Homo sapiens: one gene and its partners. The protein of the gene in region 6 purifies or fractionates together with the protein of the main gene of each other region. This does not show direct contact. Each region holds a gene or a part of one and is shown on either strand. Other genes may lie near its edges.

What was found.
Region 1: the proteins of GCFC2 (region 6) and CSNK2A1 purify together in Homo sapiens (affinity purification with mass spectrometry; 3 studies listed by BioGRID and IntAct, with this or other methods). This does not show direct contact.
Region 2: the proteins of GCFC2 (region 6) and PRPF6 purify together in Homo sapiens (affinity purification with mass spectrometry; 3 studies listed by BioGRID and IntAct, with this or other methods). This does not show direct contact.
Region 3: the proteins of GCFC2 (region 6) and PRPF8 purify together in Homo sapiens (affinity purification with mass spectrometry; 3 studies listed by BioGRID and IntAct, with this or other methods). This does not show direct contact.
Region 4: the proteins of GCFC2 (region 6) and CSNK2A2 purify together in Homo sapiens (affinity purification with mass spectrometry; 3 studies listed by BioGRID and IntAct, with this or other methods). This does not show direct contact.
Region 5: the proteins of GCFC2 (region 6) and SNRNP200 purify together in Homo sapiens (affinity purification with mass spectrometry; 4 studies listed by BioGRID and IntAct, with this or other methods). This does not show direct contact.
Region 7: the proteins of GCFC2 (region 6) and TMED10 purify together in Homo sapiens (co-immunoprecipitation; one large-scale study listed by IntAct). This does not show direct contact.

The regions. Positions count from the first base shown.
Region 1 is NC_000020.11:484,791-488,290, forward strand, and holds part of CSNK2A1 (casein kinase II subunit alpha), read right to left. Parts: intron 2,786-3,500; coding exon 2,637-2,785; intron 1,673-2,636; coding exon 1,586-1,672; intron 1-1,585. UniProt on the Homo sapiens protein: Catalytic subunit of a constitutively active serine/threonine-protein kinase complex that phosphorylates a large number of substrates containing acidic residues C-terminal to the phosphorylated serine or threonine.
Region 2 is NC_000020.11:63,984,132-63,987,631, forward strand, and holds part of PRPF6 (pre-mRNA-processing factor 6), read left to right. Parts: intron 1-775; coding exon 776-894; intron 895-3,500. UniProt on the Homo sapiens protein: Involved in pre-mRNA splicing as component of the U4/U6-U5 tri-snRNP complex, one of the building blocks of the spliceosome.
Region 3 is NC_000017.11:1,653,868-1,657,367, forward strand, and holds part of PRPF8 (pre-mRNA-processing-splicing factor 8), read right to left. Parts: intron 2,895-3,500; coding exon 2,781-2,894; intron 2,699-2,780; coding exon 2,525-2,698; intron 1,677-2,524; coding exon 1,483-1,676; intron 150-1,482; coding exon 1-149. UniProt on the Homo sapiens protein: Plays a role in pre-mRNA splicing as core component of precatalytic, catalytic and postcatalytic spliceosomal complexes, both of the predominant U2-type spliceosome and the minor U12-type spliceosome.
Region 4 is NC_000016.10:58,157,407-58,160,106, reverse strand, and holds the end of CSNK2A2 (casein kinase II subunit alpha'), read left to right. Parts: exon of another isoform or gene 1-1,753; 3' UTR 1,754-2,200; downstream 2,201-2,700.
Region 5 is NC_000002.12:96,292,047-96,295,546, reverse strand, and holds part of SNRNP200 (U5 small nuclear ribonucleoprotein 200 kDa helicase), read left to right. Parts: coding exon 1-59; intron 60-2,037; coding exon 2,038-2,231; intron 2,232-2,451; coding exon 2,452-2,575; intron 2,576-3,500. UniProt on the Homo sapiens protein: Catalyzes the ATP-dependent unwinding of U4/U6 RNA duplices, an essential step in the assembly of a catalytically active spliceosome. Plays a role in pre-mRNA splicing as a core component of precatalytic, catalytic and postcatalytic spliceosomal complexes.
Region 6 is NC_000002.12:75,669,416-75,672,915, reverse strand, and holds part of GCFC2 (intron Large complex component GCFC2), read left to right. Parts: exon of another isoform or gene 1-600; intron 601-899; coding exon 900-966; intron 967-2,631; coding exon 2,632-2,778; intron 2,779-3,500.
Region 7 is NC_000014.9:75,166,613-75,170,112, forward strand, and holds part of TMED10 (transmembrane emp24 domain-containing protein 10 precursor), read right to left. Parts: intron 1-3,500. UniProt on the Homo sapiens protein: Cargo receptor involved in protein vesicular trafficking and quality control in the endoplasmic reticulum (ER) and Golgi.

The DNA of each region.
Region 1 (3,500 bases), on a different chromosome or scaffold from region 6:
GTGCAGTGTCTCACGCCTGTAATGCCAGCACTTTGGGAGGCCAAGTTGGGCGGATCACCTGAGGTCAGGAGTTCAAGACCAGCCTGGCCAACATGGTGAAACCCCATCTCTACTAAAAATACAAAAATTAGCTGGGCGTCATGGCGGGCGCCTGTAGTCCCAGCTACCTGGGAGGTTGAGGTGGGAGAATCGCTTGAACCCGGGAGGCGGAGGCTGCAGCAGCTGAGATTGTGCCACTGCACTCCAGCCTTGGCCACAGAGCAAGACCTTGTCTCCAAAAAAAAAAAAAAAAAAAAAAAAAAAAAAAAAAAAAAAAAAAATATATATATATATATATATATATATATGAGAACATTATTATACATTCTTCTCCACTCCTCTTAGACATGGCTCTGCATCTCACTTTTTCTTTTGAGACAGAGTCTCACTCTCACCCAGGCTGGAGGGCAACGGTGCGATCTCGGCTCACTGCAACCTCTGCCTCCCAAGTTCAAGCGATTATCTTGCCTTAGCCTCCAAGTAGCTGGGATTAAAGGCGCCGCCGCCACGCCCAGCTAATTTTTTGTATTTCCAGTAGAGACAGGGTTTCGCCATGCTGGCCAGGCTGGTCTCGAACTCCTGACCTCAAGTGACCCACCCGCCTCAGCCTCCCAAAGTGCTGGGATTACAGGCATGAGCCACTGCACCTGGCCCTGCATCTTGCGTTTTAAATTTCACATTATTATATTGGAGTTGGAGATCTAACAGAACATGAAACTCTTATTCTACTGGCTGCACCACATTCCATTAAATGGATATACCATAACTGATTTAACCAGTTTCCTACTGATAGCTATTCTCAATGTTTTGTTATTACAAATAAGGCTACAAGTAAGTTTGGATATACATTACTCTGTACAGAGGTAGGATACTCAAGGGGTAAATTCTAGAAGGCAGTTAGTTCTTTTCTTAAAAAAGAGGAGGGCAACAGCAATTATTTGAGGATATGTAAGTAAATGCCTTCACTACCAGATATGCACCCACTTGGATGTTGCCTATATGTATAATTCTTATGCTATGTGCCTGTAGTTCCTTTGGAATAACTGGGTACTCTATAAAAATTCACTGTGCGTCACAATGATCCAATAATGGAAAACCATTTTACTTATGTTTTTACAACTGATAGGCACTCTATAGTTGCTCTGGCACATGTCACGGAACTGTCCTTGTACACATACACACCTATGTATAAACCCCACCTCTATACCCCATTTCTTAACATTGTTTCTAAGGGCCATGTAACTACTGTCATTTCAAACTATAAGATGAAATGGTGTATTTTTCCTTTTCATGGCTTGGCACTTTCAAGCCCCTATGCCAAAAATTTTCAGCCAGGAATGCTGAGATTCTAGCCTAGAAGGGGATACCCTACTCAAGACAGTATCACTAAAGTATACCAAATGTCAAGCATGCTGAAACCTGGTTAAAAAAAAGTCACAAGGCCACCAGTACGGAGAAGAGAAGGTATACAAGAAATCAGACCACAAAGCTAAGAACAGTAATTGACTTCCACATTTTTTTAAAGAAAATTTACCAATGAACTGACCTGACATCATATTGGCGCTGCTGACGGGCGTACTGCCCCCTGGCATGCTAGATGAACCCATTCGAGCCTGGTCCTTCACAACAGTGTCTAGAAAAGAGACAAAAAGGCTAGGTTCTGTTTTGCTTGAAAGATTAAACTAATGGTCTGGAAGCCTGAAAGCAGCCAGCTTCATTCTTTGCAATTTATATATACTCTACATTATTCCCCAAAGAACTTAAGGTGGCAATTGCCTTCACCATGAATTAGACAAGTGGTAAAAAGCAGAAATAGCTTTCCTATCAAACTGTGGTAAAAGCTAACCTTTCAATCAAATGGTAGAAAGATGAGGTAATTATTTATAGCAGAGCGAATTTAATGAAGCCCTGGTCCTGTTGAGGTTTAATGGAGACAAGACACTGTAACTCGGCAAAGACGGTAATATATTACCAGTGTGTCCACAGCCCAGTACCAAGTAGGCCAAAGCTATAGGTCCATGTAGCTTAGGGCTATGACCACATTCTCTATCCCAATCAGCCTATCTATCTGCTTCAGGTATTGGGCAAAAGTATAAATGATTCAGTACAAAACCATCACACCGAAGGAAAAATGTCATGTTGCAGCTAACATCACAGTGCAGATGGGGTGGGTCTCAGTGGTATTTTCACTTAGGATGGCACAGGTGGCTATACTCACAAATCTAAGTCAAGGTGTTCATACAATTTTAAGATTTGTAAGCCTCATTAGCTCTTTCCAACGAATGATTACTAGGGACAGGAAAGATACAGGGCTGTGTATTCTAATTCAACCATTCCAGACTGAGGCACTGAGAAGTGTCATCCTCACAGTATGAAAAGAGTTTATTTAGGAATGCTCTTGTGTCATGTATTCTGTTACAGAAGAATTCTTCCAGTAATTCTGCAATGTAGTTGCCATCACTATCCCCACTGGAAGAATCTGAGGCTCAGTGTGGGTGAATTAACTTTGCAGCAAGCTGACAGGAGCTGGGATTACGACTCTGTTCTATAGGACTCTGCGCCTGCACAAACTCTGTGGGCTAGATATCTGGACTCACAGAAATAGGGGTGCTCCATTGCCTCTCTTGCAGTAAGCCGTGACTGGTGGTCATATCGCAGCAGTTTGTCCAGGAAATCCAAGGCCTCAGGGCTGACAAGGTGCTGATTTTCACTGTGGACAAAGCGTTCCCATCGCTTTCGAGAGTGTCTGCAGGACCAAAAGAGGGCATGAGAAATGGGCCACGTGGGCACAGAAGCCCAACATTTCATTCCTACATTTTTCTTAGTGGCTAACAGCCCAGACAAAAGCAAAGAGGGATCCAAACTCAAGAGGGTAGTCTTGCACCGCTCTGCCACTGAGTGGGACAACAAAGCTAACTGGAGACTGGAAACAACATAGCTAGAGTGAAAAAAGACATCTGAGTCCTCTCAATTTTAAGAAACATAATTCAGGTTACTTGACAGGACGTGACCGCTTCTGTGTAGCAAGGAGGGTCAGGTGGCTGAGCTCACCAGGCCTATTTCCCATCCCCACACATATTCCTGGCATCTCTGCCAATTGGCCAGCAAAAGCCTTTGCATCAGGAAAGTCCATCTCCTCCTGTTGAGTGGTTAAGTGTATAAGTACTATATCTAGTCACTACTGTTAAGAGTCGGTTGTCTGCATATAGCCTTTTTTTTTTTTTTTTTGGAGACAGGGTCTCACTCTGTTGCCCAGACTGGAGCGCAGCCACATGTTCATTGCTCTCTGTAGCATTCCCTCCTGGGCTCAAGGGAAGCTCCTGCCTCAGCTTCCTAGTAGTCTGGACTACTGCCACACATCACCATGCATGGAGTCGAGGGTCTCATTATGTTGTCCAGGCTGGTCTCCAACTCCTGGGCTCAAGTGATCCTCCTAAAGTTCTGGGATTACAGATATGAGC
Region 2 (3,500 bases), on a different chromosome or scaffold from region 6:
GTTTTGAGGCCAGGTGCGGTAGCTCACACCTATAATCCTGGCACTTTTGGAGGCCGAGGTGGGCGGATCATGAGGCCAGGATATCGAGACCATCCTGTTTAACATGGTGAAACCCCGTCTCTACTAAAACTACACAAAAATTAGCCGGGCATGGTGGCATGTGCCTGTAGTCCCAGCTACTCGGGAGGCTGAGGCAGAAGAATGCTGTGAACCCGGGAGGCGGAGGTTGCGGTGAGCCAAGATTGCGCCACTGCACTCCAGCCTTGGCGAGAGTGCGAGACTCTGTCTCAGAAAAAAAAAAAAAATTAGTTTTGAAATAATTTTAAATTTGCAGGAATTTGCAAAAATAGTGCCCCCCCAAAAAAAAGTTTCTGCATGTCTTTCACCAAGCTTCTCCCGATGTTACATGACCTTAGTGCAGTTATTGAAACGAAGGAGTTAACATTGACACAGTACTATTAACTAATTTGTCAGTCGTATTTGCATTTCATGTTTTTCCATGAATGTCCGCTTTCTGGCTTAGGCTTAGTCCAGGATCCCCCATTGCATTTCGTCATGTCTCCTTGGTCCCTTCCAATTGGGGGTCTCCTCTGTCTTCCATGCCCTTGACGCTTGAAGAGTAGTCACCAGTTATATGGTAGACTGTCCCTTGATTTGGCTTCGTTGGCTGAAGAAAATAATTTAGCAAGTATTTCACAAGTAGAGATCTCCGTTTCGCTGGTGGGGATGGTGTTGAAGGAAAAGCTGACCTCTACACGTGTTGTTTGCTTCTCAGTTTAATGGCTATGCTGGGAGCCTCTTCTCAAGTGGACCCTACGAGAAAGATGATGAGGAAGCAGATGCTATCTATGCAGCCCTGGATAAAAGGATGGATGAAAGAAGAAAAGAAAGACGGTAAAAGAAATTGTTGCCTTTCACAATATTTATCCAAGTTTAAAAAAAAGTTTTGTGGCCAGGCGCAGTGGCTCACGTGTGTAATCCTAGCACTTTGAGAGGCTGAGGTAGGACGATAGCTAGAGCCCAGGGGTTTGAGACCAGTGTGGGCAACGTAGGGAGACTTAATCTCTACAAATAATTTAAAAATTAGCCAGATGGTACACACCTGTAGTCCCAGCTACTTGGGTGGCTGAGGTGGAAGGACCGTTTAAGCCCAGGAGGTAGAAACTGCAGTGAGCCATGATCATTCCAGCCTGGTTGGCATAGTGAGACCCTGTCTCAAAAAAAAAAAAAAGTTTTGTTTTGAATTGTTTTATATTTGGAGAAAAGTTGCAATAGAGTATGTGTGTCTGCTTAGCTTTTAGGCCACCTGAGGGTCTTGGTCTGTCGTAGCCATGCCTGGATAAGCACTGGGCTGTTACAGAACAGCCTTAGGGCCTGGGGGCTGCAGTGGAGAGCTTAAGAACTCTTAAGTTTTTCCAGAAATCAGCAGAATTTTGTGGATTACTTTTACGATACATCAGGGTTACCATCTTTGAAATGAAAAGGGCCTACTGACTTGATTATTATATGTTGAGTAATTTGCAAATGAATTAAAGATGTTAAATGACACATACAAGCTACCAAGATTGAACCATGAAGAAATCCCAAACCTGAACAGACCAATAAAAGGTAATGAGATCAAAGCTGTAACAGAAAGTGTCCTAGCAGAGAACATCTCAGGATCTGATTGCTTCATTGCTGAATTTTACCAAATATTTGAAGAAGAACTAATACCAATTCTACTCAGACTATTCTGAAAAATAGAGGAGGGAATACTTCCAAACTTATTCTACAGAACCAGTATTACCCTGATACCAAAACCAGACAAAGACACACTGAAAAAAGAAAATGTTAGGTCAGTATCCCTGATGAACACTGATGCAGAAATCAGCAGAATACTAGCAAACCATATTCAACAACACATTAGAAAGATGGTTCATCGGCTGGGCGCAGTGGATCACGCCTGTAATTCTAGCACTTTGGGAGGCCGAGGTGGGCGGATGATGGGTCATCTGAGGTCAGGAGTTCAAGACCAGTCTGGCCAACCTAGTGAAACCCAGTCTCTACTAAAAATACAAAAATTAGCCGGGCATGGTGGGTGGTGTACGCCTATAATCCCAGCTACTTGGGAGGCTGAGGCAAGAGAATCGCTTGAACTCGGGAGGTGGAGGTTGCAGTGAGCCGAGGTCACAACACTGCACTCTAGCCTGGGAGACAAGAGCAAGACTCCATCTCAAAAAAAAAAAAAAAAAAAGATCGTTCATCATGACCAAGTGGCATTTTGCCCAGGGGATACAAGTGCAAGGGTGGTTCAACATATGCAAATTAATCAGTGTTATACATCATATCAACAGAATGAAGGACAAAAACCATATGATCTTTTTTTTTTTTTTTTTGAGACGGAGTCTCGCTCTGTTGCCCAGGCTGGAGTGCAGTGGCGCAATCTCAGCTCACTGCAACCTCCACCTCCTGGGTTCAAGTGATTCTCCTGCCTCAGCCTCCTGAGTAGCTGGGACTACAGTTGCCCGCCACCACGCCTGGCTAATTTTTTGTATTTTTAGTAGAGACGGGATTTCACTGTGTTAGCCAGGATGGTCTTGATCTCCTGACCTCATGATCCACCTGCCTCGGCCTCCCAAAGTGCTGGGATTACAGGCGTGAGCCACTGCGCCCGGCCTAATCATTTTAATTGATTCTGAAAATGCATTTGATAAGATTCAACATTCCTTGATGATAAAAACTCTCAAAAAACTGCATATAGAAGAAACATACCTCAGGCTGGGTGTGGTGGCTCACGTCTGTAATCCCAGCACTTTGGGAGGCTGAGGCGGGAGGACTGCTTGATCTCAGGAGTTTGAGACCAGCCTAGGCAAGAGGGTAATACCTTTTCTTTACAAAAAAATACAAAAATTAGCCAGGCTTCGTGGCACACACCTGTAGTCCTAGCTACTCAGGAGGCTGAGATGGGAGAATTACTTGAGCCCAGGAGGCAGAGGTTGCAGTGAGCTGAGATCATACCACCACACTTCAGCCTGGGCCACAGAGCGAGACCCTGTCTCAAAAAAAAAAAAAAAAAAAAGGGGGGGGGAGCATAACACAATAAAAGCTATATACAGCTGGATGGGGTGGTTCACGCCTGTAATCACAGCCCTTTGGGAGGCCCAGGCAGGCAGATCATTTGAGGTCAGGAGTTTGAGACCATCCTGACCAACATGGTAAAACCCTGTCTCTACTAAAAATCCAAAGATTAGTTGGGTGTGGTGGCTCAGGCCTATAATTTCAGCTACTCAGGAGGTGGAGGTTACAGTGAGCTGAGATTGTGCCACTGCACTCCAGCCTGGGCAACACAATGAGACTGTGTCGCAAAGAAAAAAAAAAGCCACATATGGTAGGCCCACAGCTCGTATCATACTGAATGGGGAAAAACTGGAACGCAACAAGGATGCCCACTTTCACCACTGTGATTCAACATTGTACTGGAAGTCCTAGCTAGAGCAGTCGGACCAGAGAAATAAATAAAA
Region 3 (3,500 bases), on a different chromosome or scaffold from region 6:
TGCGAGTCTGTGTTGCCGTCAGCTGCGATTGTTCCTTGGTCTGCTTCTCGATCTCAGCGATCTGCTGCCGCTGCTGTGACGGTGCCGAGATCTCCATACCCAGGATGATGTCTCGAATTTCTGATTGTGTCAGTGATGCCACGTTCACACTGTGGGGATGGTGTGGGTTATATTACAAGGATCCCTTCCCCTTGGTCACTTCTGCCTCAATGGAAAGGGTGTAACTTGGTAGGACAGGACAGCCTATACTCACGCCCCAGACAATCCACAAGAGCTGCTTCTACAGGAAGTGTGAAACGGAGGTGCACTAACACTTCCAAGATTCGTCAGATCCAAGCGGGACAGCACACTGCGTGTGCACCTTCCCACTGTTTAGCATCCATAAACCCTACGCTTCCTTGACCAAAACAATGCTCTGGCATGGAACTGTTCTCAGAAATGGAAACCCCAGAAACCCTAGAATACTGGTTCTTAATCAGAGGTGGTATTGTCCGTCACCCTATGGATAATTTTGGTTGCCACGATGACAGGGAGGGAGACGAGGGGAGGAAGGTGTGTGTGTGTGTTGGCAGCAGTCTCGGATACTTAGGGTCTCGGATGTTCAAAATTCTTCCCATGTATGGACAGTAAAGAAATGCCCTGTTTGAAATGGCAACAGTGAGAAACAATGGCCAAGAGTCAGACTGAAGCCCTAAAACAGGGATGCTTCCCATACTATTCGAAGACACTGCTGTATCTCTCTTCCTCGAGACTCTGTAAGATAATTTCTTTCCTTGTTTTCAAGACAAGAGTCTCGCTCTGTTACCCAGGCTGGAGTACAGTGGCATCATCATGGCTCACTGCAGCCTCAAACCCCCGGGCTCAAGCAAGCCTCCTGCCTCAGCCTCCAAGAAGCTGGGACTACAAGCGTGTACCACCACACCTGTTTTAAATTTTTTTTTTTTGGTAGAGATGGCGTCAGTCTCTTGTTGATCAGGCTGGTTTCAACTCCTGGCTCATGCAATCCTCCCACCTTGGCCTCCCAAAGTGCTGGTATTACTAGCATGAGCACTCAAGCCTGGCTAAGACAAGATAATTTCTTGAGAAACGTCTTTTTTTTTTTTTTTTTTGGAGACAGTCTCACTCTTGTCGCCCAGGCTGGAGTGCAGTGGCATGATCTCGGCTCACTGCAACCTCTGCCCCCAGGTTCAAGCAATTCTCCTGCCTCAGCCTCCCGAGTAGCTGGGATTACAGGTAGGCGCCATCGCACCCGGCTAACTTTTGTATTTTTAGTAGAGACGGAGTTTCACCACGTTGGCCAGGATGGTTTCAAACTCCTGACCTCAAATGATCTACCCACCTTGGCCTCCCAAAGTGCTGGGATTACAGGCATGAGCCACCGCGCCTGGCCTTCTTGAGAAACTTCTAAGCCTAAGTGCTTCCAAAAAACCCCAGAAAACCGTATATAGACCTCCTGTCTGTGTCCCCACCAGCACTGCTCACTTGTTTTTCTTGCCGTAGTCAGCCAAGATCAGATCCTTGAGCTGCACCTCGACCTTGATCCATTCTTCGTCAGTCAGAGTGGGCCAGATGTGGTGTGGTTCTGTAATAGTAGTCTTGTCTGGCTTCAGGATCACTTTTGCCCGATCGTTGTTCACATGTAGGGCACGCAGAATCAGGATGAGACGGGAGAAGGCCTGGGAAAAGATTTGGAAGAGTGGGGTAGGTCAGCTGCTTGAGGCTCTCCCACTTTAATCCTAACCTTTCATGAAACCCAAGAATTTTTTTTTTTTCTTTTGAGACAGAGTCTTGCTCTGTCGCCCAGGCTGGAGTGCAGTGGCATGATCTCGGCTCACTGCAAGCTCCGCCTCCCAGGTTCATACCATTCTCCTGCCTCAGCCTCCCGAATAGCTGGGATGACAGGCACCTGCCACCACGCCCGGCTAATTTTTTGTATTTTTAGTAGAGATGGGGTTTCACTGTGTTAGCCAGGATGGTCTCAATCTCCTGACCTCGTGATCCGCCGCCTCGGCCTCCCAAAGTGCTGGGATTACAGGCGTGAGCCACTGCGCCCGGCCTTTTTTTTTTTTTTTTTAGACAGTCTTACTCTGTCGCCCAGGCTGGAGTGCAATGGTGCCATCTCGGCTCACTGCAACCTCTGCCTCCTGGGTTCCAGTGATTCTGGTGCCTCAGCCTCCCGAGTAGCTGGGACTACAGGTGCATCCCAGCACACTCGGCTAATTTTGTTGTATTTTTAGTAGAGATGGGGTCTCGTCATGTTGGCCAGCCTGATCTCAAACTCCTGACCTCAGGTGATTCACCCAACTCAGCCTCCCAAAGTGCTGGGATTACGGGCGTGAGCCACCACGCCCGGCCCCAAGAGTTGATTTTTAACTTTAAGGTCTTAAACTCTCATGAAAGTCAACAGAGTTCCCACCCAATCTATAGGCTAAAAATGTGAAAATGGCAAAAACCTGACACAGGATCTTCTCCTAACCCTAAACCCGCTCCTCCTCCAGCGATCTTCTCTTCCCGAGGTTCATACCGTGTAAGATGAAATAGTCTTGAGCCAGTCGTCATAGAGGTTGAAGAGAACCATCTGGGGCTCAGTGGCTTTAAGGATGAGATCCCCGAATTTTTCCACCTTGAGACACGCCTGGAAAGGGAGTTGGAGCTCCGATCCTTTGATGACAATATTGGGGAAGTCCAGTAAGTGCACCTAAGACAAGATCAAGTCCAAGATGAGAAACAGCCTGAAGGTCTCAAGGTCTCTTTTCTCCTACCCCACCCCACCCTCTTACCTCCAGTGGGTCCAGCATGCCCTTCCTGGTGACAATGATCTGCTTGGGCTGCTCCTCCACAGGCAGAGATCGGATCAGGGCGGCCACCTCCTCAGCTGTCTTCCACTTAGCCAACTTAAAAGCAAGAGAGAAGAAAATGGAAATTTAGTCTCTACCCTCCCAGATCAACTAGAACAGAATATCCTAGTTTTGAAATAATCCAACTACGTTTCTATTGAACACTGATGTTAAATGTTAGGCACTTAGAAGGTACAAAGAGTATCAAATGGCCGTGTCCAATGACCAGGCTGACAGCCCCTTTCAACAAGACAATACCACAAGCTGACACATGAGTATGTGCTAAACTATACACTGTTTTACAGAGTTCAGGAACAAAAGAAATTAAGGCTACTAGGATCAGAAAAAAGCTGCACAAAAAAACGTGTCTTAAGGAGGGACTGTGATTAACAGAGCAAAGAGGGGAGTTCATTCTAGAAAGAAAAATACAAGCAAAACACAGATTTGGAGATGAGCATCAGGGGTTTGGGCTACTAAGATCCTGGACTGAATGTAAGATGAAACATGCTATAAATGTAAAGGAAGAGAAACTGGCTGGACAGATACAGCCCAGCCAGATGTTGAACGTCTAGGAAGCTAAAGAAGAGTTAATTCAGCAAGAGTTGTGAGGTAGAGAAGAGATTTGGTCAAAGTGGATGTTTCAAGAATATGCGTTGCTGGGCC
Region 4 (2,700 bases), on a different chromosome or scaffold from region 6:
AACCGTTAATAACATGCTTCTGAGCTATGTGGATGTATAAATGAAAACACCCCCAACTAGGTATTGTAGAGGCTGGAAAAAGATGTGATGGGATTATACAGGTGATGCATATTTTTGTTTTGAGACTCAACAATGTGCTACAAATGTGATACTTAACCCTGAACTGCATGTATTGGGGATTGTTTTTTAAAAAGAAAAAAAACAACTTTGAATCAATAAATTAACAGTTTTTCACTTGCTGGCTCTTCTTGCTGTAAATGGTGACTAAGAGGTTGGGACAGAAATCTTGACAACTAGTGGAAAACTTGGATAATCTTCAAGGACCATGGAGCCTTCTGTTTCCTTCTGTTTGCAGAAAAGCAACACTGCCTGGGTTGTGATCCTTTACAAGTGACTACTTCAGACACAATTGGCCACCTCTTTGTATCACTGGATGACTGATGTATGATTTATGTGCTGCTGCCCTTAGAGGGAAGAAAAATGCCATGTTAAATCCTGTTTTCTTAAATAAAAATGTTGACAATAACCAGCCTTCCCAAGTGGGAGACAAACCATTGCTATGAGGACCTTAACTTGTATTTCCTGTCTCTTTGGGGGAGAGGGGAGGGATAAACCTTGAATTGCAAAGATGTGTGTTACACCTTGATGTGAAAACTTTCCTTTGGCAGAAGTGGGGCTAGAGTGGTGTCCTGTTGGGAGTGTTCCGTTTTTATGTACTTGCTTCTGAGTCGCGCCACTCAGACACCTGCCTCTTGGGATTGACTGTTTTAGTGCATGACTTTAACCTTGTGGCCTGGTGCTCTGCATTTGTGAAACACTCTCCCTAGCCCCATTCCTTGCAGCACATGCTATTATTTGGCAGGTGGTGGTATCTTTAATTAATGTGCTTTCTTTAATTAGTGTGCTTTCTTCTCACTGAGCCTCTGAAGTTGGGTGCTTGGAATCAGCTGAAGTGTTTAAAGGCAAATATAGTCATTTCTTTCTTAACCTCATGCACCATGCAGCCCTTCTCAAATCAAATACTACGCAGTGGAACCCTTCCTTTACCCAAAGAAAGTTTTCATGAAATGATTTTGTGTGTGTGACAGCTTCCCAGGTGCATAGTCCTTCCTCAGTACTGTAGTGCTGTTCTGGGAGGCACTGCTTCTAGAATTCCACTGCCGGCATCTCACCACCCACTTGCTATGCTGGACCTGGAAGGAGAAATGAGGTTTTCAGGCCATGCCAGGCAGCTAGCTGTTTCCAGGGGAGAGTTAAAAATATTTGAGCTCACTTACTGCTCTTTGTTTATTAGTGGACTCAGCCCTTTTTCTGAGTAAATACAGACCCCGTCTTAGTCCTAAGACACCTCAGATAATCAGGTCAGGTCTGAGGGGGACCTAGAGCTGACTGCTGAATTTGTAGCTTGACTGGCACAGAATGGTCAAGAGGCTCTGAGGCTTCTCCATCAGCACCCTGGACCCGAGGGATGGGGTAGAGTGGAAGACCTGGTCACAACACACGTGGTGCCCAGAGCACCCGTCCTGTGACAGAAGGCCGTGCTAGAGACCATCTCTGTCATGATAATCAGAAGAGGAAGGCAGAGGGTACTGTTGGAAACCTGAACTCAGCGAGTTCTCACAGGGTTCTCCACCAAGTGGCATGGGAGGGCCGAGCTTGCATTCTAGCACAGGCCCTCCTACACGTGGAGGCCTCCCCTCGCCCGCTCAGGTTGATTAATGACGTCTTTCCCTCCTCCCGTCTCTTTCCCCAGGTCTGTTGCGGTTCTCCCACTTTTCCATAAGCAGAACAAGAACCAAATCAAACGTCTTAACGCGTATAGAGAGATCACGTTCCGTGAGCAGACACAAAACGGTGGCAGGTTTGGCGAGCACGAACTAGACCAAGCGAAGGGCAGCCCACCACCGTATATCAAACCTCACTTCCGAATGTAAAAGGCTCACTTGCCTTTGGCTTCCTGTTGACTTCTTCCCGACCCAGAAAGCATGGGGAATGTGAAGGGTATGCAGAATGTTGTTGGTTACTGTTGCTCCCCGAGCCCCTCGACTCGTCCCGTGGCCGCCTGTTTTTCCAGCAAACCACGCTAACTAGCTGACCACAGACTCCACAGTGGGGGGACGGGCGCAGTATGTGGCATGGCGGCAGTTACATATTATTATTTTAAAAGTATATATTATTGAATAAAAGGTTTTAAAAGAAACGTATGGAGAGTTTTCAGTATGGAAAGGGCCGTGAACTGAGGCCTGTGACTCAGGATGAGACAAAAGCGCATTCGTGCCAGGTTCTAACCAGACGAAGCAGGGGAGGTCCCTGGGACAAGGTGGGCCAGTTTTCATTTTTGTTTTTAAACAGTCTTGCTCTGTCATGGAGGCTGGAGTGCAGTGGCGCAACCATAGCTCACTACAGCCTCGGCCTCCTGGCCTCAAGTGATCCTCCTGCTTCAGCCTCCTGAGTAGCTGGGATTACAGGTGCATGCCACCACACCTGACAAGTTTTCTTAAGTTTTTTTTTTGTAGAAATGGTCTTGCCACGTGGCCCAGGCTGGTCTCAAACTCCTGACTCAAGTGATCCTCTTTCCTAGTCCCCCTAAAGTGCTGGGTCTACATAGAGGTGTGAGCCACCACACTCAGCCAAGGAGGGCCCGTTTGTAAGGACTCTCTTCCAGAGCTGAGTGGTGTTAAGAGGTACACAGTGAACCAG
Region 5 (3,500 bases), about 21 Mb from region 6:
TCATCACCCGCAAGGGTGGTGAGCGCACCTACACCCAGCTGGTGCGGCTCATCATTCTGGTGAGTTGGGAGCAGTCGTAGAATATAGAGTCCAGTTGTGTCAGGGCGGGTTTGCTGGGTTTTCATGCGAAATGTTTCTTTGCTGCCTTTTCTGTAGGCACTAGCCTTTGTAATGACTAGTCCTCCAATTCCGTAGGATGAGATCCATCTTCTCCACGATGACAGAGGTCCTGTCTTAGAAGCTTTGGTGGCCAGGGCCATCCAAAACATTATAATGACAGCTATTGTCAGCTTGTGTTTGCCATCTTATTTATTTATTTATTTGTTTGTTTGTTTGTTTGAGATGGAGTCTAGCTCTGTCGCCCAGGCTGAGTACAGTGGCACGATCTTGGCTCACTGCAGCCTCTGCCTCCCGAGTTCAAGCAATTCTCCTGCCTCAGCCTCCCCTGTAGCTGGAATTACAGGCGCCTGCCACCATGCCCAGCTAATTTTTATATTTTTAGTAGAGACTGGGTTTCACTGTGTTGGCCAGGCTGGTCTCGAACTCCTGACCTCGTGATCTACCCACCTCAGCCTCCCAAAGTTCTGGGATTACAAGCGTGAGCCACTGCGCCTAGCCTGCCATGTTATTCTTTATATATTTTTTTATGTCTGAAATATTTTACTACACTTGATCTTAAGCCAAAAGGCCAAGAAGCTATGTCTGAAATATTTTGAAACAAATGTAAACAGATAGACAAAAAACCATCATATCCAACATCATTTAGGGTTTTATAAGTAAAAGAATCCATTCTCTGAGGGAATGAGTGAGGAAGCAGGATATTGTATTCCATATACACAGAAACTTCCAGAGATTAGTGACTAAGTCTGAGTATAGTTTAAGTTGTCTGGGAAAAGCAAGAAAGGAGACTTCACGTGTTGGTTTTCAGTGTTCTGGAGCAGGGGTTGGCAGTCTGTGGGTACTGGCTTTGTTCTGTTGGAACATAGTTACACCCATTTGTTTATGTATTGTTTACAGCTGCTTTTGGCTGCAATGGCAGAGCTGAGTATTTGCAATAGGGGCTGCGTGGGCCAAAGCCTGAAATACTGACTGTCTGGCTTTTTTTTTTTAGACGGAGTTTCACTCTTGTTGCCCAGGCTGGAGTGCGATGATGCAATCTCAGCTCACTACAGCCTCCGCCTCCCGGGTTCAAGCAGTTCTCCTGCCTCAGTCTCCCGAGTAGCTGGGATTACAGTTGCCCGCCACCATGCCCAGCTAATTTTTTGTATTTTTAGTAGAAATGGGGTTTCACCAATCTGATGGCCAGGCTGGTCTCGAACTCCTGGCCTTGGGTGATGCACCTACCTCAGCCTCCCAAAGTGCTGGGATTACAGGCGTGAGCCACTGCCCCCGGCTTTTTTTTTTTTTTTTTTTTGAGATGGAGCATCTGACTTTTTAAAAAAAACATTTCTGGTCCCTGCTTTAGAGCTTTGCTACTTGAAGCCTGATCCATGGTTGGGGTCATAGCAGCAGCAGCATGGAATAGGAGCTTGTTAGAAATGCAGGATTTGTGGCCTCACCCCACACCTGCTGAATACAATCTCCTTTTTAACAACATCCCCTGGCTTTGGGATACTTAATAAAATTTGAGATGCACTGCTTTAGACTATTCAAACTCATCATTTGATGTGTGATAGCTTTTGTTCTTGGGAACTATAACTGCCAGAGGTGAAGCTTCTGATCAGATCATATTTATATCCTTTTTCATAAAGAAGTTTACCTTTAAGTAAAGTTTAAACTCATTTATCTGAGTTTCAGAATTTCTTTATACAAAGTATGTTACTGAACTGTACCAAAGCAACTCATGGTCAGAGTCTGTTACTTTCTGGAGTATTTCATGGGAAATATTGTCTCCATCCTTTGGGCATCTGTGGCTTGGGATCCCTTGTCTTTTTTCTTAGGCATATTAGGTTATATGCCTACAATATGGGACAATTCCAGGAAAAGGGACTATGTATCTCTAGTGCTAGAGGTAATTTCTGTCCTCCAATTCCGTAGGATGAGATTCATCTTCTCCACGATGACAGAGGTCCTGTCTTAGAAGCTTTAGTGGCCAGGGCCATCCGAAACATTGAGATGACCCAAGAGGATGTCCGACTCATTGGTCTCAGTGCCACCCTACCCAACTATGAAGATGTAGCCACCTTTCTACGTGTTGACCCTGCCAAGGGTCTCTTTTACTTTGACAACAGGTATCAGGAAAGACTGGGCAAAGTTCTGCCAAGGTGACCATCCTGCTCTCTTTCCTCTTTTCCAAGGAGTGCTACTGGGTTGGGTTTTAGAAGGGCCTTTGGGTTTTGATGTGGTGTGAATCATAAAGGAGGAATATTGCTCTTGGGGCAGTGAAAAAGACTGTTTATTCCCACAGTATTTTCTGCCAAAGCCTCATTTGTCTAACTGTTGAACTTCTAGCTTCCGTCCAGTGCCTCTGGAACAGACATATGTGGGTATCACAGAGAAAAAAGCTATCAAGCGTTTCCAGATCATGAATGAAATCGTCTATGAAAAAATCATGGAACATGCTGGAAAAAATCAGGTTTGCCCGTGGTTTATGGTTACTCTTGAACCCCATTCTTTCGAATGTTTGATTCACCAATAATTGGGGAAGATTGACAGAAATTAAAAGAGAGAAGACACAACATAAATCACCAATATCAGCTATGAAATGGGATATTACTACAGAACCTATAGCCACTGGAAGGATAATAAGGGAATACTATGAGTAATTTTATGCTCATAACTTTAAAAATTCAGAAGAAATGGACCAGTTCTCCAACAACTACCAGTTAACTAGCAAAACTCAGCCCAGATGAAATAGATAACATGAAGAGCCCTACAACTATTAGAGAGTTGGAGAATTAAAAATCCCCCCAGCAAGCAATCCCCAGTCCCAGATAATTGTTTTGTGCATTCGCATTATCCAGGGTCCCTCCATAAAAGATTTGGGGTCACTTACACTAAAAATGCAAGACAATAAAAAGAGGAAAATGAAAAACTAGAGGGCATTTTACTAGACAGTGTGATAGAATTTTTAAATTGAAAGTCGAGTTGAGCAATGTTAACTAACAAAAAATAAGGAAAAGTGACTGGTTTTGTATTTCTTTTTGTCTGATGAAAAGAAGCATATGAATTTATATGAAGAGACAGATCTTTTCTTGGCACTAAATACTAGGAAGACTTCATTCCCTACAACAGTGTACTAGTCTCAGACTTATTTCCTAAATCCTTTTATAAGTAGTGTAATGTTTTAGTTGTTATTTTGCAGACACATTTTCATGCAGCTTTGACTCTTGTTAGGTGCTTGAACATAAATTCTGAGTTGAGAGGCCCGAATTTGTAGTTGTAGTCTATTTAAAGTTGCTGTTCAAGATAGGATGTTGAAGTTGGTTTAATTTCTCAGCTCCAGGACTGTGAACTTGGTGGGTGCATTCCCTTAAAAGTCTTTCCAGCCGTGTTTAGGC
Region 6 (3,500 bases):
ATGAATTTTGTTTGGTTGGTTTTGGTTTTGGTTTTACATATATCCTAGGAACATAGCAGGTGATATAGAGTGGTAAAGAGCACACGTCCACTGTTAGTAGGTATTTTTATGCACTTGTTTTCTCATCTATAAAATAAGGATAAAATTAGTGCCTACCTCACAGGATATTAGGGAGATGAAGAGAATGCTCAGAACACAACAGGGCCTAGCACAGAGGAAGCACAATGCTGAGGAACGAGAAACTGCACCTGTAAATTCTGCAGTCACTTTAAATTATAAAACGAGTATTTGATGTATGATCATAACTTTGCTAAGAAGCCATCAGTTATAATGATGCATGAACTGTAGCAATCCAGTGAGTAGTGACAGGATGGAGGAGCTTTATGGAGGGGGAAGAAAGGAACCTCAAAGCTTTCTGATTCATTTTGAATCATGAGATGTCTACATGTAAAAATTCTGCCTTGGTAAACTTTGTTTATAATGTTTTAGATAATGCATTCACATGGTTCAGATGTATGAATGTGATATATTAGTTATTTGTTTATAAATATATATTTTATAAACATATTTATAAATATATAAATATATATTTTATAAACATATTTATAAATATATAAATATATATTTTATAAACATATTTATAAATATATAAATATATATTTTATAAACATATTTATAAATATATAAATATATATTTTATAAACATATTTATAAATATATAAATATATATTTTATAAATAAATATATATTTTATTTATAAAATAAAATAAACAATCTCTATTTATATTCCATTAAGGCTTAGTTTGGTTGGTTTAAAAGAAAGTCTGATCTTAAACTCTGGTTCTGAAAGACTAATAGTTCTTTGCATTTTCTCTTCTCTTTCGTTTGTTTCTAATTAGTGCTGTAGAAAACAAAACATCACCTCATTCAAAGTTCCAAGAAAGACAGTTCTGGTCAGGCCTAAAGGTGAGCAAAAACTGCAAAAATGAAAAGGCAATTTTTGTAAAAATCCTGTTTACTATAGAACAAAGAACAACAAACTTCTTCTATAAGAATTAGATAGTATTTTAGGCTTTGTGGTCACATGGTCTCTGTCGAATTACTCAACTCTGCCGCTGTAGCACAAAAACAGTCATAGTACATAAACAAATGAACATGGCTGTTTGAATAAAACTTATGAACACTGAAATTTGAATGTCATATAATTTCCTCATGGTACAAAATATTTTGTTTAAAGACAGTTTTAAAACGTCCTTGAAAAGTGTTAAAACCATTCTTAGCTCACGGACCCTATAAAAACAGGCAACAGGATGGATTTAACCCACAAGCTATATAGTTGGCTAACCCCTGGCCTTAAAATTATTGCTAAGTCAGTGGCAGTAGGGATGAGAAGGAGAAGAAGGTTCAAACAATGTTTGGGAGGAAGCATTGAAAGGAGTCGATAACTGATCAAGGGAAGATAAGATCTATTTTGTACATAATGAAGATATATGTGGGACAAATAGAGATACAGAGGTCTAGGAGGTGGTTGGATACATAAGTCTGAATTTCAGGAGACAGATCTGAGCTAGAGATTTGGGAGTCCACTACCTGTAGGTAATATTTGGAGCCATGGTCATGAATGGCAAGCTGCGTAAGGAGACTGGATGAAGCATGAGAAGTAGGCCAAGGACAGAACCTCGGGAAATACTAACAGAAGAGGAGAACATGGAGGCTTCAGGGAATCTGTAGAATCAATTATGAGCCTTAGGATGATCACAAGAGAATGGCCTCAAGGAAGCTAAATGAAAGATTTTCAAGAATGAAGAAAAGAGTGTTAAATGCCACCAAAGAGTATTAAGAGAAAGACTGAAACACTGTTTATTGGATTTGACAATTAGAAGGATATAGGTGACCTCACCAAGAGTAGTTTTAATAGTGTGAATTAATATTTGTCATGTGGTTGAATCAGGGAAAAGGCTTTCTGGGAAGAGGGAACAACATCAACAATGAGATAAAATGTGAAAAAGCATTACATTTTAGTAAAACAGCATGTAGTTCAGCACTCAGAGTAATGAATATAGTACTGCAAAAAAAGAAACACCTTAAAATTCACAGAAAGATCTGAATTTAGTAGAGGGAAAGGACAACCAATATTTTATTAGAATTTATTATGGTTACTTAATCCAAGTTATCTTCAAACTCAAAGGTGATTATAAATCTTTATGTATCAGAGGAATGAAGCTCTCAGCGTTGATTGCCTTCTCAAGGTCACATGTTGGTAATGGCGGCCCTAGTTTTGACAGTAGTTCTTTATGAATCACGTGGTCCTGTGGTCTTATACTTGATGGCCCCCGGCTTTGAGAGAAAATGGATTGGGAAGGAAGATTATTGATCTGGAAAGGCTCTAGTGAAGTTATTTGAGATAGATTTGGGGATGGTTATCCTAGAAAATGAAAATAAGATGAGCAAATACATGGAGTTTGGAAAGAATCAAGTATTTATTCAGAGATATTGTATTCTAAAATTGACAGTTCCAACAGGGCTAATTGTAGTGAGAATTTTAGTTTGACCAACTCTTCATGTTTGTTAGAGACTATTACAGTTTCTCTTTGGAGAAAAGGTACATATTTACTTGATATTTTATTTTAGCTCTTCCGCAATATTCTTCTTTGGAATGGACTCCTTACAGATGACACCTTGCAAGAACTAGGACTAGGGAAGCTGCTAAATCGTTACCTTATTATAGCACTTCTCAATGCCACACCTGGGCCAGATGTGGTTAAAAAGTGCAACCAGGTAAGTTGTGAAGGAAGACTGATTCTAATTTTATCATTTCTAAAAAATTTAGCTATTAAAATCTATTATTTAGCAAAATAATTAAATGTGTGGTACTCATATATAGACAAATGGGCCAGGCACAGTGGCTCATGCCTGTAATCCCAGCACTTTGGGAGGCTGAGGCAGGCGGATTGCGTGAGGTCAGGAGTTTGAGACCAGCCTCACCAACATGGTGAAACTCCGTCTCTACTAAAGATACAAAAATTAGCCAGGTGCGGTGGCTAACACCTGTAATCCCAGCTACTTGGGTGGCTGAGGCAGAAGAATCGCCTGAACCCAGGAGGCAGACGTTGCAGTGAGCCGCCATTGCACTCCAGCCTGGGTGACAAGAGCAAAACTCCATCTCAAAAAAAAAAATTGACAAATGAATTTAACAAAGCTAAAATGCAGAGCCGCTCTTCTGTATTTAAGAAAGAGTATACTGGTTTGAAATATCCCCAGTAGGGAAAGGAAAAATTACTTAATAAATGATGCTAGATGGCTGGCTGTTTACAAAAAGAATGTTAAGTCCTCACCTCTCACTATACACCAAAAAAATTTCAGGTAAAATTTTAAAAAATGTAAAAATGAAACTATAAAATATACTAAGATGGTAAATGACTATATTTGAGAGTGAGGGAGTTCCTTCTAAACTTAAAGGCAAAAGAAGAAATTATGAGAAAAAGTAATAAATTTGAAAA
Region 7 (3,500 bases), on a different chromosome or scaffold from region 6:
AGATTTAAATGAAGCAATGTATCCTTTAACTTTTATGGAGAAGGACGCAAAGGTCAAGTTATAATTAAAAGCTAGGAACTTTGTATATAATACAAAAAGAAATTCGATTTATATTATTAAATGTCAATGTACCAATTAGCCTTCTGTACTGAACCATCTATTTATTGACCTGTTTCTAACCCAGTGAACAACAGTCACGTTAAATTCACGCTGAAAGGGCCATATTTCTCCCTACAGAAAAAGTCTGGCATAAGTAAGGGTTCATGGGATCGTTATTGATAAAAAGGATGGTTCATTTCGATGACTGAGCAACATGCATCCTATTCCTTTTTTTTTTTTTTTTTTTTGAGACGGAGTCTCACTCTGTCGCCCAGGCTGGAGTGCAGTGGCGTGATCTCGGCTCACTGCAACCTCCACTTCCCAGGTTCAAGCGATTCTCCTGCCTCAGCCTCCTGAGTAGCTGGGACCACAGGTGCACACTACCACGCCTGGCTAATTTTTGTATTTTCAGTAGAGACAGGGTTTCACCATGTTGGCCAGGATGGTCTCATTCTCCTGACCTCGTGATCCACCCACCTCAGCTTCCCAAAGTGCTGGGATTACAGGCGTGAGCCACCACGCCCAGCCGAAGCATCCTATTCTTTCTCCTTGTCAGCACAGAACAGACCTCAGTACAGATACCAGTAATAAAAAAGCTGAAATACAGTAATTCCAAACAAAATAATCTGAAAACTATAGCATATATACCATCTTTTCCTTCCTTCCTCCCTCCCCTGCCTCTTCGCCCCTCTGCCTCTCTCTCTTTTCTCCTCCTCGCCCCCACCCCCACCACTGTCCTTTTCTCCTTCCTCCTCCCTCTCCTCTCTGTCCTCATGCCTGGCCTATAGTATCTTCTCATACAGCTTTGGGTGAGGGAAAAAAGAAGTTATAAGCCAATAGTTTCCCAACTGCCAAGTTACTTCTTCATAATTTTTAGGCTTAAGTTGTGGTAGGCCTGTGATTCAAGGCTGAACTCTTTAAGGGATCTGTTTGGCTTTCTTATCTATAAGCTAGTTGGGAAGGACAGAAATCATAACTTGGTATAAGATCCAAATTTTCAGCCAGGTGCAGGGGTTCATGCCTGTAATCTCAGTGCTGTGGGAGGATCACTTGAGGCCAGGAGTTCGAGGTTGCAGCGAGCTATGATCATGCCACTGCACTCCAGCCAGAGCAAAATAATAATAAAAATATTACCCAAATTTCTGAGTCCCTACAACAGGCTTTTATTATGGACCTGAAGTAATGGAGGAAACTTCTATATTCACTGTAAATGACGAGTTGATACTTCCTGCTTCAATTATGTGCAGCAAAGTCTTTATACCTGACACTAGTTAGCCTGATTTAGCCTCACTTTATGAAATGAGTAGGGAAGTATGGAATAGACTCAGTTTGGAGATCTTAACACAAAATGCATCTCAATATAGGTCTGAAATAGAAATCTTTGCAGGAGAGGACCACCCATCATTTCAATCCATTTATCTCTCTCTGCTTCAGAAAGGCCTCCCCTGACCACTCAAACACCCTTTAACCCATCAGTCACCCCCTACTCCCTAGTGCCTGAACTTTCATTATAGTGCTTATCACTACCTGAAATTCTATTATTTTAACTTGTTTTTTGTCTTTGTTCCCCACAAGAGCTTGAGGACCTTGTCCCGTTTATCCCCATATTCTCAGCCAGGTCTGACACATACTAAATATTACATAAATATTTGTTGAATGAATGAAAGAATCACAAACTACTCATAATTCCTCTCATTAAAATACTCCATATCTACTTATTTCAATGACATATAGCATGAGGGGCTCTGAGAAGCAATTCAATTTTCATTCAATACAGAGGAAAGAAAAGAGTACTAACATCTATGGAGCACCATAATGGGCCCTGCACAATAAAAACCTCACCCATCTCAATCAGTCCTTCTAACAAGTTTATGAGCTCTACGATTCCCATATTACAGAAACAGGACCAGAGAAGAAGGGTTAAGTAATCCCTGCAAGACCCACATAACCTTTAAATGGTGGAGCTGCTGGGATCTGAACCAAATCTATCTTACTTCAGATCTAGTCTCTACCATACCACAAGGCTTCTCAAGAAGACTAAGATGTTTAACTCAGTTATACAACAATGTGTACGTTAAACTAAAGACACAAAGATGAGTAAGACATTAAAGAGTTCACAAAGTAAACACTACACTACATGAAAAGTGCCATGTAAAACAGGATGTAATGGTACTACAGTATCTTTTCATACAACTTTTGGTGAGGGGGAAAAAAGAAGTTATAAGCCAATGGGACACATAGGGGACACAGAAAGTCAAACATTGATCCAGGTAAAGAGAACATTATATTCAAAGAACTGTAAGGTGTTCAGTATAGCTAGAGTCAGAGTGGGAGGAAGCAAATAAAGAGAATGGAAGAGGGAAAGATCAGAGATGAGGCAAAGACAGTGCTTGCTCGTCTGTTCACTAATTCCTTAGGATAAGGTCCTACTATGTGCCAGGCCTTATTTTAGACAAGCATTGCAATGATGAATGAAACCTAGTCTCTGTTCAAGCAGCTTATAGTTTATCCCAGGAGATGGGCAAATACACAACTGCAACACAGAGTGGTATATGATAACATAGGTGCATTCACTGGATACTGAGATGTTCCTAGACAGAAAGAAGGTGAATCAGTCAGATTAACCAAGGCACTATATTCACAGAGACCCTTATAAGAAAGACTGCCTCAGGCTAGGCACAGTGGCTCACGCCTGTAATCCCAGCACTTTGGGAGACGGGCGGATCACCTGAGGTCAGGAGTTTGAGACCAACCTGGACAATATTGTGAAACCCCGTCTCTACTAAAAATACAAAAATTAGCCGGGAGTAGTGGTACGCGCCTATAATCCCAGCTACTTGGGAGGCTGAGGCAGGAGAATTGCTTGAACCTGGGAGGCAGAGGTTGCAGTGAGCCGAGATCATGCCATTGCACTCCAGCCTGGGCAAAAAGAGCGCAACTCCATCTCAAAAAAAAGACTGCCTCATTCAGCACAACCACCAAATGCTAAGCTCAGCTGGCCAGGTTCTGCACCAGTCTCCAGTTCTCCTCCTACCTCAAATCAAACCACAGCTGCCTAAAGCAGGGGTGGAAATATGACCAAAGACAAGACAATCCATTGGCTGAACTGAGACCTAGAATGTGGCCTACCATATGAAAAGGAGCTCTGGCACTTAGGAGTTGCACTCCAGAAGCTAAAATGATGCATAGGGAGAATCCTTGAAGCAGTCGTCAAAATATAAGAAAAAGTGGAACGGCCGGGCGTGGTGGCTCATGCCTGTAATCCCAGCACTTTGGGAGGCAGAGGCGGGCGGATCATGAGGTCAGGGGATTGAGACCATCCTGGCTAACACGGTGAAATACAAAAAATACAAAAAATACAAAAAATTAGCCGGGCGTGGTGGCGGGCGCCTGTAGTCCCA